Linked DNA regions of Homo sapiens: region 1 is linked to region 2. Evidence: fine-mapped expression QTL. Tissue or cell type: whole blood. Region 2 holds a variant in brackets; the other region holds the start of a gene. All regions are shown on one strand. Distances are from middle to middle.

What was found. PIP is the estimated chance that this variant, and not a neighbour inherited with it, causes the effect.
Region 1: TECPR2 starts here. The variant in region 2 is fine-mapped to the expression of TECPR2 in whole blood (TOPMed, PIP above 0.99).

Annotation. Positions count from the first base shown.
Region 1 is chr14:102,358,353-102,367,475 of GRCh38, reverse strand. TECPR2 (tectonin beta-propeller repeat containing 2) reads right to left here and starts at 4,535. Exons shown (of 20, transcript NM_014844.5): 1 at 4,360-4,535. It overlaps CINP (cyclin dependent kinase 2 interacting protein), which reads left to right and starts at 4,586. Exons shown (of 5, transcript NM_032630.3): 1 at 4,586-4,631; 2 at 7,889-8,057. The coding sequence starts at 4,625. LOC124903427 (small nucleolar RNA U13) reads left to right here and starts at 8,574; the gene lies at 8,574-8,677. RefSeq lists silencers at 4,002-4,091, 4,132-4,541.
Region 2 is chr14:102,425,986-102,436,354 of GRCh38, reverse strand. TECPR2 (tectonin beta-propeller repeat containing 2) reads right to left here. Exons shown (of 20, transcript NM_014844.5): 7 at 7,973-8,105; 8 at 4,227-4,559; 9 at 1,144-2,120. Among named protein-coding and RNA genes, the nearest start is that of TECPR2, 68 kb to the right of the region's middle. The variant T/C (reference allele first, on the strand shown) is at 4,981.

The DNA.
Region 1 (9,123 bases), 68 kb after region 2:
TAGAATAGGCAAGCTGTAGGCAGAGTAGGTCAGTGGTTGCCCAGGGCTGGGAGAAGAAGGGGTTAGGGTGTATTGCTGAAGGGTACGGAGTTTCCTTTTAGGGTGATGAGAAAGTTCTAAAATTGACGTAGTGACGGTTGCATAGCTGTGAATACAGTAAAAACCATTGAATTGTATATAAATGGGTGAACTGTGTGGCATGTAAATTATATCTCAATAAAGCTGTTACCCCCCAAAAAACAAAGGAAAATATCAGCTCCTTCAAAGAGAAATCAGACCATACTACCCATTCTACTCAAAACTCCTCACTGGTTGCCCAGTGCTCTAAGAATAAAAACCAAATGCCCCGTGTGGTCTAAGCCCTTTGCAGCTCCCCTGTCACCTCTCTACCCGTCTCCACTTGTCCTCCAAGTTCTAGCTCCACTGACCCACTCTGTCCCACTCAGGTGTCATAATTATTTCCTCTATGCAGAATAAATGATCTCACTCCATTTATCTGGCTTCTTCTCAACTGTGGGGTCTCAGCTTAAATATCACCACCACAGAAAGGCCTTCTCTGACCAGATCACTCAAGAGTACCCAACTGTCCCTTCTTTCCTCTATCATATGTGCTTCATAATCCTCATTACAACCTCTAATTGCTTTATTTGCTAAACCATTTAAAAATCATCTCTCCTACAAGAATGTAAGCAACATGAATTCTCTCTTGCTTACCAAGGTAAATCCTAGTATCTAATAATAGCTTTGGCACAGAGTAGATGCTCAGTAAAGATTTGTTAACTTCAGGTCTTACTGCAAAACAATAGTCTCAATCCAATTTTTAAAATTGGGCTGGGCATGATGGCTCACGCCTGTAATCCCAGCACTTTGGGAGGCCGAGGTGGGAGGATTGCTTGAGGCCAGGAGTTCGAGACCAGTCTGGCCAACATGGCGAAACCCATCTCTACTAAAAAATACAAAAATTAGCCAGGTGTGGTGGCGCACACCTGTAATCCCAGCTACTTGGGAGGCTGAGGCAGGAGAATCACTTGAACCTGGGAGGTGGAGGCTGCAGTGAACCAAGATCGTGCCACTGCACTCCAGCCTGGGTGACAGAGTGATATTTCATCTCAAAAATAAATAAATAAATAAAAATATAATGAATAATGCTTCCTTAGTCATGACTATTTCAGTTAAAAAAATACAAAACACCACCCTATGGCATCCTTCAAGTTACGATGCTTCCTTTCCCCACTAGCCCTGTCAATCTCATAACCCTGGAAGGTGGCAGCTAGCCTTCACTGCTGACTACTAACACCCAACTGCCACCCAGATGGATGATTTCTCAAACTGGAGCTAGGACTAATATAGAGTCTAAGTCATCCACTTCGCTGTACAATAACCATGTTATCAGAGTGCTCTGGGTACACTAATGGTTTCAGGATTCTCTCCAAAATCCCTAGGAAGCAACAATTTGTATCCCTATTGTAGAATCTATGTTTGAAATCTGGCTACGACATCTATTAATTATTTGAGTATTAAATTATTAAGGAGGAACGTAATGAGACTGAGGCAGTCATTTATCTTCCAGACAAAATTTTGTCACTTCCTTGCTCCCATCCCCATTGGCTACCCAATGGTCACAAGCTAAAGCCTAACACAAGCATGGAAATTAGACACTATGACAAAACAGTCTATATCTAACTTCATCTCAGGCCACTCTTCCATCCACACACTGTGCACTCCCTACCCTTTAGCAATCACCCCTCTACACGCTTCTTCTCTCAGCCCTGGGCAACCACTGATCTCCTCTCTGTCTACAGTTCGCCTATTCTGGAGATTTCATCAAAATTGAATCATATAATATGTGGTATTTTGTGTCTGGTTGCTTTCACTTAGCCTAATGTTCTCAAGGTTCCTCCATGTTGTAGCACAAATCAGTACTTCGTTCCTTTTTATTGCTGAACAGCCTTCCATTGTGTAGACAGGCCACGTTTTGTTTGTGCATCCATCAGCTTTCCATCACAGTCCCTGCACACACCATAACCTGTATGTCTCTGCAGAACAAAGTCCCTTTCCACTCTTCCCTATTCCCCCACATGTGCCCTGTAAGAACTAGTCCTCCGCCACCAGGAAGCCTTCATAAATTCCCTCAGATACTTGGTTGGTCTTTCTCTGCTTTCACAGAACTCCATGATGGCAGTTATCGCACAGCACCATCATTATCTGTTTTCTCTCCCCTTCAATGGACTCTTTCTCATCTTCACCTATGTTCTTCTAGTCTGTATACTTTGTGGTGCTTTAAAAGACCAATAAAGAGTATGGTACAATCAATGCTCAATACACGTTTGTTGAATGAATCTCTCTCTCAAAGCACTGTGCTAGATTCACCCAAGTATGACAGCCCTAAATATAAAATAGTGGCAAAAAGTCAATAGAACTCTTATGTCCAGGTCCAAAGAATACATTCATTTTAAATTGAACATGCATCTTGAGTAACAGCTCCCTTCTACCTTAGCAATTCGCAAAGCCATCAACTACTCCCTTCTAATTTTACTGATCTCTCTGTGCATTACTGAATCTAGAAATCTCTTCGTGCTTGACACCAAAGCTTTTCATTATAACCCTTTCCTGATCTATTCCTCATCTTCCCAAGTTCAATCAACTGCCTCTGCCTGATGCCTGTTTCCTTCCTTTTCTTCCCACTAAGTTCCAGTAGCCATTTTTTTCAACTCCTACAGCGGCTAATATGAAATGAAATTCTCCCCAAACTTAAGTGTAACTTCTTTAAGAAAAAATTGGAAAAAAAAATCCAGTAGATGCCAGTCTTCTATTGAAAAAGACACGTGGGTATAATATAGCTGATGCCTAACAAAAGCTACTTCCTAGTCACTCCTTCAGAAGAGGGTTATCCTCATTCCATCTTCCCCACCACTGGTTTTCCAAGGCAGTCCTGAAAATTCAATTTGTGTGTCCCCTACACCTGCACTTAGTTCTCCCTTTTAAAGTTCATGGGCCAGACCATGATCTTTCTGAGGCAGTGACCTCAGGAAGGGTCTGTCTGGTTCACCACAGCATCCCTAGAGCCAGCCTGGCACAGTGCTGGCACACGATGGCCAAATAACCACCAATATGGGACGTAAGTCAGGTTAACAACAACAACAACAAAAATAAGGTCAGAGGTTTATCAAGGTACATTATAGCTGGGTGTGAGAAAACACAAAGTCCTGCAGCCTAAAAGACCAGGAATCGCTGGTGATCACAAGGAGCTACAGTGGCTTCATTCCCAGATTCTACCTATGCCTGGGATTTGCGTTTTGAGATTTCCCAGAACTCTGTCTACAAGACCTTGGCTGCAAGGAGGCAGTCCACAAGTGCAACTGGTCACTCCAATAGATGAGAAAAGGATGCACCCAGGCTGGTATCCCACATTCTGCCAACACATGGAACATAAGTCACAGAACAGAATAAAATTCCTGAATCCCAATAAGAGAGGAAGAAAAAAGTGCAGGGAAGAGAAATGGAGGTAGAGAAGGAGAAACTAAAGTCATGAGAAGTCAGAGACATATCAGAAGGGACTAGAGGGCGAGAACGCAGGCTAGCACAGATGACAGCAGGGGCTCCCCTTTACTGAAATGTACAGCGGCAGGCACCGTGCTTAACTTTACATGCACTGACCCATTTAATCCTCTTACCAAGCCAGAGGTAGAAACTATTCTCATCTCCATTCCACTGGTGATGAAACTGGAGCGGAGTGAGGTAGGGCACTTGCCCCAGCACAGAGCTAGGAAGGGGCCGCTGGGACCTGCCCGGCTCTGACTCCAGGACACCCCATCCTTTAACACTTACTACCTATTCTGCCTCCCATGCCTTCAAATAGGATTGGGAAAGGAGTCATTCACTTATCCACTCATCGAACACTGAACACCAACTGGATGAGTGTCAAGGCCTGGGGCCAGGCGCCGGTGGGCGGATGTAAGGGACGCGGGCTGCGAGTGGGGGACAGAACACGACGTCAATCTTAAGGCGAAGGAGCAGAGCCCGCGGCCAGACCGGCAGCCGGGATGCAGGGTGGGGCCGGGGGCCGAGGGCGCGGGACGCGCAGCGGAGGCCTGAGGAGGGGCGGGCGGCCCCTGTTCCCCGCTGCGGACCGCCGGATTCTGCGGGCGGCGAGCCAGGCGCTCCGTGTGTTGTGGCATTTAGTGTCCGCCACTCCGCGCGGGCGAGACCGCGGGCGAGGGAGACGGGGCGGACGGGCATGGAGACCCTGCGGGGCTGAGGCAAGGGAAGAGTGGCCCGGGGGAGGCCGAGGAGGGGCTCGGGGCCAGGCGTCGGGGGCGTCGGGGGCGTCGGGGCCGCTTGCGGCGTCGCCGGACTCACCTCCCGCGGCAGCCCCTCCGGACTCGTCGGCCCCGCCGGGCCGGAGGAGGCGGGATGGACTCCGGGCCGCGGGGGCTGCCGGGAGCCTGTTCCCTGGGCAACGGGGCCGGCACCGGGGCCAGCACCGAAGAGCAGCAGCTGGCTCCGCCGGGGGCTAGAGCGGCAGAGCCACAAGTGGCAGCGGGCGGGGCGGACGTGACGCAAATGCGTTTCCGGTGGGGTGGGCGGGGCTTCGCGTCTCCTTCTACGGATATCTGTGGACCTTATGGAAGGTGCGTGAGATCGGTTCCTTTCCCGGGGTGGGGTGGCTGTGAATGTTACTGCTTAGGCCGCAGGTTGGACCAGAAGCTCAGGAGCTCCCCGGATTACATGAGGTTAAATGGAGGTCCTCTGTCTTACCCCAGCCTAGCCCGCAGGCCCCTCGCAGCCTCTGCGAGCTGCTCGGGAGACAGTTTTGCCGAGCCTCCGTTTTTTCACATGTGCAGTGACAGATGAACGGGACGATATACGCAAATGAGTGTCAGCAGATCCGACATCCAAATTGTAATTATTGTCACTATAAATTAGTACTAACAGAGTTCACTGGGTACCAAGCCTTGCATGCTCATCTCGTCCAGAAACTCCTCTCTGAACTGCCCTCAGTCAGAACATTCTGCTTGTAATGAAAGCTGGCTTTCGCCTAGTGCTCAGTTTGCTGAGTACTGCTCCAAGCACTTTAAGTGGATCATCTCATTTGAACCTCACAGTGGTCCCATGAAGTAATGTCAACCCCATTTTGCAGATGGGGAATCGAGGCTCAGAGGGGATAAGTAACTTAGCCACTGTGCCCTCACCCTACCCTGTCCTGTGACGCTGATGACTGGTCTGTCTTTACCAGCCCTTGAGTTTCTTGAAGTCAGTTATGTTTTTGGTTCCTAAATATGTGCCCCGTATGAGTCAGGCTGACCATGAATCAGATGTGATCCTGCCCTCAGAATCTCCTGTTGGGGGGAAAACCCTTAGACAATTATAGAACAGGTGGTAAGAGCTATTCCTCCATTTACCTCATTTTATGCAAAGCCTCCTATGTGTGGAAGGTTTGAAAGAGAACGAGACATAGTTCCTACCCTAGTCGAATTTCCAGTTTAGCAGGGAATATAGACATTAAACAAGCAAATACACTCCACTGGTGAATATCATGATAGCAGAATTATAGGGTGTACCACATATCTAGTGGTGAGTCGTAACCCAACCTGGGGGATCCAGGAATACTTCTCTGTGGAAATGACTTTCTAAAAACCTAAATCAGATAATTTCACTGCCCTATCCAGAGCTCATTGCTCACTCCCCATTGTATTAGGTTGGTGCAAAAGTAATGGCAATTTTGGCTGTTAAAAGTAATGGCAAAATCTGTTACTTTTGCACCAAGCTAATACTTAGAAGTCCAAACTTCATTTTTTTATTTTGTTTTGTTTTGTTTTGTTTTGTTTTGTTTTTGAGACGGAGTCTCGCTCTGTCACCCAGGCTGGAGTGCAGTGGCGCGATCTGGGCTCACTGCAAGTTCCGCCTCCCGGGTTCACGCCATTCTCCTGCCTCAGCCTCCTGAGTAGCTGGGACTACAGGCGCCCGCCACCACGCCCGGCTGATTTTTTGTATTTTTTTAGTAGAGATGAGGTTTCACTGTGTTAGCCAGGATGGTCTCGATCTCCTGACCTCGTGATCCGCCCGCCTTGGCCTCCTGAAGTGCTGGGATTACAGGCGTGAGCCACTGCCCTCGGTCCAACTTCTTATCTTGGCCTATTAGGTTCTAGTTGTCTGATCACCTACTCACGCACTAGTCCTTTTCTGTCTATTTCATTCCAGCACACTGGTTTTTTTGTTTGCTTGTTTGTTTTGTTTTGTTTTCTGTTTTTTGAACTCACCAACCTCATTATCATAATTAGGGCACATACTACTGACCTACCCTATTTCTGGCTTTTCATCATTCAAATCTCAGCCTAAACGACACCTTCTCAGGGGATCACACTAACACAAGACCCTGTTTTATTTTCCACACACACTTAATCATGATCTGAACTGATCGTGGTCATTTGTTTATTATCTGCCTCCCCTTTGGAAAGTAAGTTCCATGAAAACGGTCCTGGTCCGTCTCATTCAATCACTTCATTCCCCCATGCCTGGCGTATTGTAGGCAGTAAGCAAATATTTGTTGTTTAAGTAAAGAATGAATGATAAATCAAGATGATATTTTAAAGTGAGGATACTAAGTATGAGGCAGGGGAGTGGGGACACACACAGATAGGAAAAATATTCCAGGTCAAAGTCAGAACTTGTACAGAGCCAGCTCTGATGCACAGAGGGCAAGTGGGAAAGGGTAGAAGCTGAAGTGGTGGGCAGAGCTTGGATAGTAGAGGCCCTTGAGCTAACAGGTGAGATACTGGGTTTTTGCCTTGTGCGAGGCCTCACAGCTTCACATATATTATCTAATCTCAGCAATCCTATGAAATAGATACTATTTTTATTCCCATTTTACAGATGAAAATGTTGAGGCTCTGAAAGGTACATTAAGTTGCCCAAGATCTCACAGCTGGCGAGCTGGGGTTCAGACGCAGGCAGTGTGGTCTTCTGACTTGAGGCATCAAACCATCCAGCTGTTGTGTGTCCTGGATTCCTCAAGAGGACTTTATCCTGTGGGCAGTGAGAAGCCTTTGTGGGGTTCAAAGTAGAGAAGGCAAGAGGGCACAGGAGGGTTCGGGGAGAACAAACAACCTGAGTTGGCTCTTGGTGGTCTGGGGGTTGCTTCCTACAGGCAGTGGGATCCGGGTGCATCTTGGAGGATGGGCATCGTGAGCCTGAGGAAGGAAGGAGCTTTCCTGCAGAGAGAACACGTGTAAAGGCCTGCAGGCACCTCAGCTTTTCAAGAGCTGCCAGTAGTTCATTTTCGCTGGATATTGACGGGGGGCCAAGGTGTGGGTTGATGTACGTGATGATGTGGAGGGGTAGCTAGGTCTGGAAGGATTTTGGACTTCCTCCTGATTACCAAGAAGGGCAGTGGCAGCATCGTGATCAACTCTGCATCTCTGTTGTCTCAGTGTCTTGAAATGATTAGCACTCATGGGCCACGCTACTCTGAGCAAATTTAAAGTATCAGAGTGCCTGAGACTAGATAGTGGAAGTACTCGGGAGTCAGGGCTAGATTATCCTGTAGGGAAGGGAACGTGAGCCATTGAAGAGTTTTAGCAGACAGTCACAACTTTACCTTATTTCCAATCTTTGGAAAACAAAGGGCTTAAGGTAAAAACTTTGTGGAGCCATTAAGCTGGAAGAGGATTCAGCTCTATCTGGTGAATTTTAAAATGTTAAAAATATTCTATATTGTCTTCTTCCAGGAACTTTCACATTCATTCAGACTTTGTAGTTTCCACATTTATTTGTCCAGTTGATACAGCATTTCAGATAGTTTTACTGTTGAAAATTATAAGGACATTTGCCCTCCAACTATGATTGTATATTCCATGATAATAATTTTGTTTCTTTTATACCCTATCAGCAAAGACTCTTGGAACTGTAACGCCCAGAAAACCTGTCTTATCTGTCAGTGCAAGAAAAATTAAGGACAATGCGGCTGATTGGCACAATTTAATCCTGAAGTGGGAAACCCTCAATGATGCAGGTTTTACCACTGCAAATAATATTGCCAACTTGAAAATCAGTTTATTGTAAGTACATATTGGTTTTTCATGCTCTAAGTTTTTCACCCTTAATAACTGGGGAAATAATGTGAATAAATTTTAAAATAAAATATTAAGCAAAAAAAGCAAGTGGTAAGATGATACGTGTAAGTATAAATTGTATTGTACATTTTAAATACAAAATTATATTCCATATATATATATATATATATATATATTTAGTTATTTATTTATTTATTTTTTTGGAGATGAAGTCTCACTCTGTTGCCTAGGCTGGAGTGTGATGGCGCGATCTCAGCTCACTGCAACCTCTACCGCCTGGGTTCAAGCAATTCTCCTACCTCAGCCTCCGGAGTAGCTGGGATTACAGGCGCCCGTCACCACACCCAGATAATTTTTGTATTTTTAGTAGAGACGGGCTTTCACCATGTTAGGCTGGTCTCGAACTCCTGACCTTACGTGATCCACCTGCCTCAGCCTCCCAAAGTGCTGTGTGAGCCACCGTGCCTGGCTATTCTGATTTTTAAAACCACAGATTCTTTGATTCTTTTGTAGTTCATAGGCATAATGATTGGGTTTTCATGCTCATGTATGACCTGTGCCTTCCTCAAACTTTGCTATGATGTTGGCACATTACCTAGCTGATATGGAAAAAACTACCATGAATTCTTTTCATCCATTTTTGGATTTTACGTAAACAAAAAACATATGTTATTGTTTCCTTTATATCTCACTTTCTTTTTCTATTTTTTATTTTTTATTTTTGGAGACGAGTCTCACTCTATCCCCCAGGCTGGAGTGCAATGGCGTGATCTTGGCTCACTCTAACTTCTGCCTGTCAGGTTCAAGTGGTTCTCCTGTCTCAGCCTCCTGAGTAGCTAGAATTACAGATACCTGCCACCATGCCCGGCTAATTTTTGTATGTTTAGTAGAGACAGAGTTTCACCATGTTGGCCAGGCTAGTCTCAAACTCCTGACCTCAAGTGATCTGCCCACCTTGGCCTCCCTAAATGCCGGTATTACAGGCATGAGCCACTGCGCCCAGCCATGTCTCACTGTCTTTCAACATGGAAGCCATGCGTGTAATGTAGAG
Region 2 (10,369 bases):
AGAGTGAGACCCTGTCTCAGAAAAAAAAAAAAAAAAGAAAGAAAGAAGAAAAAAAAGCCAGACTTATGGCGTTTTGTCTCAAAACAAGTAAGCAGCATGTTTCACTTCTGAGGCATGACAGCACAGAGGGTGAGTGAGGGGGTCCTGGGGCCCGCCCTTCATTTGCTATGTGACCTTGTGCAAGCTGTCTAGCTGTTCTGTGCTTCCATTTTCTCCTCTGTAAAATGGGGACAAGAAGAGTGCCTATTTTATAGTTCGTGTTTAGAGAAGTAAAAGAGTTAAACCTCTAAAGTGCTTTGTGGGATACCTGCACATGGTGAGCACTGACAAAGCGTCACACTGCTAGCACTGACAGAAGCCAGCGTAGACTGTGGAAAGCACACGTGGCTGTAAGTGCGCAGCCATAATTCATACCTCACATCGACAGTTAGTAGGAGACAGGGCAAGACACAGTTTTGAAACAAATATATCTAGTAATAATTACTTGCTAAGGGAAGTAGGCACTTTTAAAAAAATCACTTTTAATATAAAATGCTCAAGGACAGTTAAAAGTCATCTCCTAGTTACATGTGCTGGGTGGACCTACAAAGACTGGTTACTCCAAACTGGTTCCTGTACAGCTCGCAGGGGAGCCTTGGAGCCACTGTTCGGAGGTTGAGGAGACAGCAGTTCTGGAAATGGCCTCGTGCTCTTGCAGATGGTTCCTTGGAGGGGTGTGAGGAGAAGGACAGGAGACTCCCTGCCTCCAAACTGCTCAGAGCTTTCTCTACTCCACAGGTGGACAGTCCTCTGCCCACTGGTTTTCTGAGATGGCCCCAGGCCAATTCAGCCCTGCCCTACGATGGCTAACAGTAAGTGCCTACACCAGCCTGCACTTGTGGGGTCAGAGGAAACAGCAAGACGCTACCTTGGTTGGGGAGGCAGGTTACTGAGCAGGGTAGAACAGGTCAGAAGTAGTTCAAGCCATTCATAGTCCCTGTGCTGGAAATCCCCTGAAACCCAGACTTGAAAACAGAGTTGGCCTACGGATTTTGCAGTAGGAATAGAATTTCTTTCCATGAGAAGGAAAATAATCAGTCTTGACAATTATTACCCTTAAGAAAGAAGCCTCAGCTACTTTTCCCACCACCCGAACCCACATACCTGATCTGGCTTGAGCAGCCCGGCGTCCTCTGCACCCAGCCGGCTCAGGTCCTGCTGGGAGCAACTAGGTCCGAGCTCTGTCACACTCGTCTCTGAGGATGAAGAAGGAAGCCCGTGGGCATAGATGTCCTCCTCATCGCTGGACGTCAATGTCTGATCCCGTGGAGGCTGCTCAAGCCAGGGCTTGTGAGTGCTGGCTGCCAAGGCAGAGACCGGAGTCAGCTGTCCTCCCACACTCCCCAAGACACGTTCAGAAATGGGTATTTCTTTCTGACCTGTGTCATCATCAGTGACAGCATGCCAGAGATTTGTGCTGAGGTGGCCAGAGGCCTCCATGCTGGTTAGGATGTCCTGCTCTTGGCTGGGCTCCACGGGGCTGCCTTCATCAGCTCTGGTCCCAGGCAGCCACTGTTCAGCACTTGGGGCCCAGCTGAGGCTGGAAGGCACAGTGAGTGAGTTCAGGAGGGGGACTTCACAAAAAGTGCTTTGGGGGCCAATGGGTTGGATGTCTTCCCCATCATGCGCCCCAGGAGAGCTGTCCTGTTCTTGGAAGGGTAACTGTGTGCTATTTGGTCCATCATCTGCAGGACACGGCTCATCTCCGAGTCCCGTGACATCACTGCCTCCCACATCTTCCCTCGCTCCATTGAGCAGCTCCCGCCCATGTGCATGGTGACAGTGTGGCATTTCAGTTCTAATGTCATCTTCCTCAGCCAGAGAATCAGGCATTGATCCTGACACCTCCAGGACATTAAACGTTTCGGGGTCAGTATTTTCCTGTGGGACACCGTTCACTTCACCATTGAAGCTGCTTTCCTGGTCTGGAGACTCTGCACTTAACTGATCCACGCTACTGCCCAGGACACTTGAGGTCATCGACAGCAAGTCTGTGTTCAAGGACTGGGGACTGTCCCCAGGAAATTCGGAGCAGGGTGTCGATTCCAGGGAGCTGTGACAGGTGCTCCTGCTTCCACCTTCTAATTCAGAATAAGAACATTCAAAATAAGGCACGGTTCTATATGATTAGTAAGAGACTAACTTGCACACATATTTTTGGCTCAAGAAAAAAAATTTTAAATAAAGGATATTTGGTGAATGAAGAATAAACCTCTTAAGTACAAATAATCCCAACAAAGAGATGCTTTCTATGCATGCAAGTACTGAACAAATCCATGGGTTTGAGGGCAGCTAAGAAAAACCAGGGGACAAACTGAGATGTTCACCTGGGTCACAAACCAATTCCTTATAATTATTAAAATGCTTAGAAATCTAATAACATTTCCTTCAGTGTTGCAGTCATCTTAGCTAGAGAGGATTAACAGGAACCAAGGAGTAAAAGGTTTGAAAAATTCAGTGTTACACAGCCATAACAAAGAATGAAATCTGGGCTGTGCACGGTGGTTCACGCTCATAAGCCATCCTAGCACTTTGGGAGGCCGAGGCGGGTGGGCCACCTTAGGTCAGGAGTTCAAGACCAGCCTGTCCAACATGGTAAACCCCTGCCTCTACTAAAAATACAAAAACTTAGCTGGGCGTGGTAGTGGGCACCTGTAATCCCAGCTACTCGGGAGGCTGAGGCAGGAGAATTGCTTGAACTTGGGAGGCGGAAGTTGCAGTGAGCCGAGATCGCACCATTGCACTCTAGCCTGGGTGACAACAGTGAAACTCTGTCTCCAATAAATTAAAAAATAAATAAATAAATAAATAAATAAATAAAAATAAAGAATGAAATCTTGTCCTTTACAGCAACATGGATGGAACCGCTGGCCGTAATCCTAAGCAAATTAATGCAACAGGAACAGAAAACCAACAGCATGTTCTGACTTGTAAGTGGGAGCCAAACACTGAGCACGCATGGACATAAACATGGGAAGGACAGACACTGTGGACCTCCAGAGCGGGAGAGGAGGCGGCATGGGTCAAAAGCCACCTACTGCATACTGTGCTCACTACCTGGGTGCTGTATACCCATGTAACAAACCTGCGCATGGACCCCCTGTATTTAAAATAAAAGTTGAAAAAAAAAAAGAAAAAAATTCAATGTTAAATCCCATATTTGGTAGCATATTCAACACTAAACATAAAATGTCCCAAGTATTTACCAGCATAGATCTTCTGGTTTCCACAACTTTCCACCCAGGCTCACAGAATCTCTGATTTAATCAATGGTATACATGGATAAACCAACACTTTTTTTTTTTTTTTTTTTGAGACGGAGTCTTGCTCTGTTGCGAGGCTGGAGTGCAGTGGCGTGACCTCGGCTCACTGCATCCTCTGCCTCCCAGGTTCAAGTGATTCTCCTGCCTCAGCCTCCCGAGTGACTGAGATTACAGGCACATGCCACCAAGCCCAGCTAATTTATGTGTTTTTAGTAGAGACGGGGTTTCACCATGTTGGCCAGGATGGTCTCAATCTCTTGACCTCGTGATCCGCCTGCCTCGGCCTCCCAAAGTGTTGGGATTACAGGCATGAGCCACTGCGCCCGGCCCCGACATTTTAATTTAAATACTAAAAACTATGCCAGGCGCGGTGGCTCACGCTGTAATCCCAGCACTTTGGGAGGCCGAGGCGGGCAGATCACCTGAGTTTGGGAGTTCAAGACCAGCCTGACCAACATGGAGAAACCCTGTATCTACTAAAAATACAAAATTCGCTGGGCATGCATACTCGGGAGGCTGAGGCAGGAGAATTGCTTGAACTCAGGAGGTGAGGTTGCAGTGAGCCGAGATCGTGCCATTGCACTCCAGCCTGGGCGACGAGCGAAACTCTGTCGCAAAAAATAAATAAATAATATAAATACATAAATAAATATTGAAAAGTACAAAACTGAGACCCTTTAAGCAGGGTGGTGAGTACACACAGGTGTTCTGTCATCATTTAGACCTTACAGTGTGTGTGTGTGTGTGTGTGTGTATTTTCCGTTAATGTGAAGTATTTTGCAGTAAAACTCCTTTGGGGAAGAAATGTATGTGTTCTCTGCTTTTGGATGTATGGAGCATTGCTCACTCAGTGAGCAGCAGCACTCCCAGAGAATCTGGAAAGACTGTAACCCCAGATGGGTGTGTGCCAGCTACAGAGGGTACCTGTCTTCTTCTTCTTCTTCTTCCTTTTCACTTTGATAGGCTTCACGACAAGCTCCTGGTCAAAGTCCTCTGAGCTGATGGCGTTGAATCTCTGTGACAGGGGCTGGCTGCCCTTGCCCAGCTCAGGGGTGGCCTGGAGCCCAGGGGGCAGGAGCCCGGAGCCGCTGTCGGTGGAGTTGAGCGAGCTGCTCCTGCTCCTTGGCTCGCTGGCCACGGAGCTGGCCATGGAAGAGCCTCTGAGCCTCGTCTCAGAAACTGTGGCCCCTGGCAGCTTCTCCGCTTGCTGCACGTGGACACGCTCTGAGCATCCAGACATCTCCAGACCATCTCTCACTAAGAAAGAAGAGTCTGGTTTTACCACTGGTGATCCAAGAGAGAGCTGATGTGCACTTATCCACGTTTGCTAGCCCTAAATACCAGTTGTCACAGAGGCACCAGCCAGCTAAAGAACTGAATGATTCTAAATTCATAGAAACCAGCAAAACTAGGATGGGCACGGTGACTCACGCCTGTAATCCCAGCACTTTGGGAGGCCAAGGCGGGCGGATCACAAGGTCAGGAGATCAAGACCATCCTGGCTAACACAGTGAAACCCCGTCTCTACTAAAAATACAAAAAATTAGCCGGGCATGGTGGCGGGCGCCGGGGGTCCCAGCTACTTGGGAGGCTGAGGCAGGAGAATGGTGTGAACCTGGGAGGCAAAGCTTGCAGTGAGCCGAGATTGCGCCACTGCACTCCAGCCTGGGCAACACAG[T/C]GAGACTCCGTCTCAAAAAAAAAAAAAAAAAAAATCCACCAAAACTAAAAGAATCATACAAAAGACTCTAAGAAACAGTTTTTGTTCTTCAAGAAGCTCATATATTAAAATCAGTAAAATAATTTGCCATAGCTTTCTTTTTATATTTATTTATTTATTTATTTTTGAGACGGAGTCTCAAAATTTAGCAGGGTGTGGTGGTGCACGCCCATAGTCCCAGCTACTTGGGAGGCTGAGGTGGGAGAATCATTTGAGCCTGGGAGGTGGAGGTTGCAGTGAGCTGAGATCATGCCACTGCACTCCAGCCTGCACGACAGAGTGAAACCTGTCTCAAAAAAAAAAAAAAAAAAGTAAAAAAATACTAAGAATACAGCATTTCTCGCTTCAATTTACAAATTATTTACAAATGAGAGATGCCTGTGTATAACAAAACAGCTTAGTTATACTTCATACTAAGACTCTGCCTTGAATATACTTTAAGATTACTCAAAGGGCATTTGAAAAATACATGTGTACCTGTAATTAAGTTTCCTGGAAGAGGGAAAGGTAATTTTCCATTAGAACAAACTCAAGACAGAGAAGTCCATTACCACACAGCATCAAGGCCAGTAGACCGCAGAGTGAGAACAGGCATGTGAGTACCTGTCTCCTGTCCCCAAGCCCAAGGGCCAGTGAGCTTCCCACTGCAGTGGACTCATCTTTTCTGCAACACGACACCACAGGGCACAAGGCCAGAGCAGTTCCAGCTACAGTACCCTCAACACAAGACCACAGCCCACTTTGATCCATTCGCCATCCTCTCTTTATCGGGGATCCTCCGTGTGCCAGACACAGGGCTAGCTGCTGGGACATGGCAGTCCATAAGACACAGGAATTCCTGCCCTTGAAGCACCCACATTCTATTGAGGGCATGTGTTAGGGGCAGACTGCAGGCAATGAAGTGTACACTGGAGACTGGAGGGGAGGACTCTGCTGTGAAGCGACTTGCTGAAGATTACATAACTTAATGGCAGATCTTGCCTAGAGCTCCCTGTCCAATAGGCAGCCACCAGCTACTTGTAAGTATTGAAATTCAAATTGATCAAAATTGAACAAAATTTAGGCTGGGCGCGGTGGCTCATGCCTGTAATCCCATCACTTTGGGAGGCTAAGGTGGGAGGACTGCCTGAGCTCAGGAGTTCGAGACCAGCCTGGGTAACATGGTGCATGGTGAAACCCCCTTTCTACTAAAATACAAAATATTAGCCTGGTGTGGTGGTGCACACCTGTAATCCCAGCTATTCGGGAGGCTAAGGCAGGAGAATCGTTTGAACCCAGGAGGTGGAGGTTGCAGTGACCAGAGACTGCACCACTGCACTCTAGCCTGGGATACAGAGCAAGACTCTGTCTCAAAAAATAAAATAAAATAAAATAAAAATTAAACAAAATGTAAAATTCATCTCTCAGCTGCACTTGCTATATTGCAAGTACTCAGCAGCCACACATGGACAGGGACTGCCTACCAGACAGGGCAGATGGGAGCATCTTCATCACTGCAGAAAGCTCTATGGGCAGCAGAGGTCCAGAGCTTAGCCTGGTGGCTCCAAGTCACCACCCTTCCTGAAAGCCATTCTAACCCTTTGATGACACTGTCTGAGGGGCCCCCAGCTCATAAACTCAAGAGTCAGAGCTTATTCACTTCTTATACAAATTATGTTTTGGAATATTCACCCCAATTTGCCCTCTCTGACATCAGAGGTAATGGTAGTGAGGAGGAGGGTGATGGGGTCCACATGGCTGTTGTTGCCACCATGAGGAACAAGTTCCCCGAGGAACCCAAATATATAAAGCATGTGGATGTCCGCAAGAGGACACATATTAGGATTCTTTGCTCATTAAAATTTGGGCTTGTATGAATTACCAAAAAATGTCAAAAGCACAGAGAAAAATAAATCCTACAAGGAAGAACTGAGTTAAGGGTAAACGGTATGTCCCAGATGACAGATTTAAATATTCTAAAACTCTATGCAAATCTATGTCTTTTGGAGCATTAATCCCACATACTGTCTCAGACGGAGAGCAGGGATCAGTAAAGTGGTTTCTGATTTTTCCTTCCTCCTTTCTCAATCTCCCCATCTTCCACAACCATGAAAGCAACTCCACTAAATGTGAGACTATCTGATGTAAGCCTTAAAGTAGGTGACTTTCAAGAAATGTACTGTAAATGCTATTTTAACAATCAGAGGAGCGGCCGGGCACAGTGGCTCACGCCTTTAATCCCAGCACTTTGGGAGGCGGAGGCAGGCGGATCGCCTGAGGTCGGGAGTTTGAGACCTGCCTGACCAACATGGAGAAACCCTGTCTCTACTAAAAATACAAAATTAGCCTGGCATAATGGCGCATGCCTGTAATCCCAGCTACTCAGGAGGCTGAGGCAGGAGAATAGCTTGAACCTGGGAGGCAGAGGTTGCGGTGAGCTGAGATCGCCTCATTGCACTCTAGCCTGGGCAACAAGAGCGAAACTCCATCTCAAAAAAAAAAAAAAAGAATCAGAGGAAACCCTCCAAATCCTCCAAGTTCAAATAAAGTTGCAATAGTTTAGCAAAATAATGGTAAGTTTTTGGTTTTGTTTTTGAGATGAGGTCTCACTCTGTCATCCAGGCTGGAGTGCAGTGGTGCAATCTTAGCTTACAGCAACCTCTGCCTCCCAGGCTCAAGCGATCCTCCCACCTCAGCCTCCCGAGTACTTGAGACCACAGGCGCATGCCACCACGCCTGGCTAGTTTTTTGTATTTTTGGTAGAGACAGGGTTTTACCATGTTGCCCAGGCTGGTCTTAAAGTCCTGAGCTTAAGCGATCCACCCACCTCAGCCTCCCAAAGTGCTGGGATTACAGGCGTGAGCCACCATGCCTGGCCCAATGGTAAGTTTGATCAATTATTAACTGCAATTACAAACAACAGAGTATAGTACTTCCCATCATATACATGGTACATTTTATAATAAATACAAACCTGTTGATGTTAATCCTTCAGGCCTGCTTGAAATTCTTATAATGTTCCTATCTCCTTTCAAGAAAAATATTTCATTTTCTGTGCACGAAACAGACACAATATCACCGGATCCTTCCAAACCAGCAACTGTGGCCTGTCAAAAAAAAAAAAAAAAAAAAAACAAAAAACACAAAACTAAACAACGGTAACAGCTCAAAGCATAAAAATGCATGTGTGAGAGTCCAAATCAGTCAAATGATAACTGCACTTTACTATGGTAACTTTCTGAAAATTCCAATTCAATCCAAAGTTAGGTAACATCTCACAGATTGGTAAGCAGGATCTGAGGGGTCCCCTGGCATGGTGGGGCCTCGGTCATCTCCGACCCACGTACCACCCTGCCCTCGTCCCTGCTGCAGGTGCACCGGCCCTGCCAGCCCAGTCCCAGCCCTGTTCCTCCATGGTGAATGCACGTGCTTCTCTTTCTGCTCAAATTCCTTTCCTATCCATGTTTGCTGGGGAAGTTCCAGTTCTCTCCAGACGCCACCTCTGTGAGAAGCAGCCTCTGACAAGCTTGCCCTCTGCTGCAACACCCAGGGCTCTCAGGGCTTGCAGCACCTCATCCAAACTTCCGCTTGACGCCCCACTCCTGGGCTGAAATAACGTGCAGACACGTCTAGTCCCCCTACTGTGTGCATTCCTGCAGGAGAGGCCAGTGCGCACTGCAACTCATGGGTTTTGAATGAATACATGAAGGGAGGGGAGGTTCCTCCAGCATTATCTGAAAGTGGGTGGCAACAAAACACAGGACATCCTGAGCCCACACTGACTTAAAGCAAGTCCTTGCTTTGCTGTAGACAGTGCAAATAAAGAGACTAGTCTGTTGTAGAAGGAGAGTCTATGTTTTTGGCTAATTTTAAATAACTGATGGACTGCTGCAAACATAACATTTGTTTCCGAAAGCTGCCAGTCATGCTGCCACTGGGTGGTCCAGTCTCTGAGGGTGACTGTGACATCTGTCCCAGACGGTCCCCTGTCTCCATTTCTCTACCTATAAAATGAAGTTAATTATACCTACTGGGTAAAGCATCGGGTAAATGCTCAGATGAAAGAACCAATGCACAGTTACAAAGCATCTTGATGCTACTAATTAATAAGTGCACATAAGTTCAAAAGGTATCCAGGGAAAGAAGTTCTCTGTAACTGAGGAAAGGGTGCAAAAATACCTTTCAGAATATCCCTTATAAAATGAACAAACTCAAGGCACCTTGGTGATTCCCCTAAGTCGATGCTTCTTCCACCCCCACCCCATTTTACAGGAAAACAAACCAGGCTCCGGCCGATAAGAGACTCTTGGTTAAAGGCAGAACCAGGCTAGAAGAGTCGAGTCTAGTTCTGCCCCCCACCCCGGGCCAGTTTTCTTTCTGCCAAACCAGTGTTACCAGGTACGGCTGATAATAATTCATAAAACTTCAATGAGGAGAAGATGAACTTCATGTTCTGCTGACACACACCAAAGAAGAAAACCCTTTCTTTTCTTTTTTTCAAATGAAGTCTTGCTCTGTCACCCAGGCTGGAGTGCAGTGGTGTGATCTTGGCTCATTGCAACCTCCGCCTCCCAGGTTCAAGCAATTCTCCTGCCTCAGCCTCCCGAGTAGCCAGGACTACAGGCGCCCACCACCATGCCTGGCTAATTTTTGTATTTTTAGTAGAGACGGAGTTTCACCATGTTGGCCAGGCTGGCCTTGAACTCCTGACCTCAGGTTATCCACCTACCTCGGCCTTCCAAAGTGCCCAAAGTGCTGGGATTACAGGCGTAAGCCACTGCGCCTGGCTGAAAACTGTTTATTTTCTACAGTGAGGCTCTGCTTATAAAAGAAAGGGGTGCCTGTCAGAGGCCCGCTGAGCTCAGAATGGAAGAACGTGAACAGGACAGGGCCTGGTCTAGAGTCTGGGGGTGAGGAGTCGGGAGGGTAAGGCAGGGAGTTTATTTTAAAAAGAGCAAAAGCTCTGCTCTTAAGACAAGGAGAAACTGAAACTAAACAGCTTTGTTTAAAGTTTCTAAATCTGTCTCTGATGATAATCTGTTATCATCTTGGTTTAAGCAGAAATTATTTCCTACCATGATTTTAATGATGTTGGAAATTTGCCCAAGATATATTGCTAAGTAAAGAAAACTGAAAATAAAAAACAAAAAACAAAAAAAAAACCAAGTGGCGGCCGGGCGCGGCGGTTCACGCCTGTAACCCCAGCACTTTGGGAGGCCGAGGCTGGCGGATCACCTGAGTCAGGAGTTCGAGACCAGCCTGGCCAACATGGTGAAACCCTGTCTCTACTAAAAATACAAAAAAATTAGCCAGGCGTGGTGGTGCGCACCTGTAATCCCAGCTACTTGGGAGGCTGAGGCAGGAGAATCGC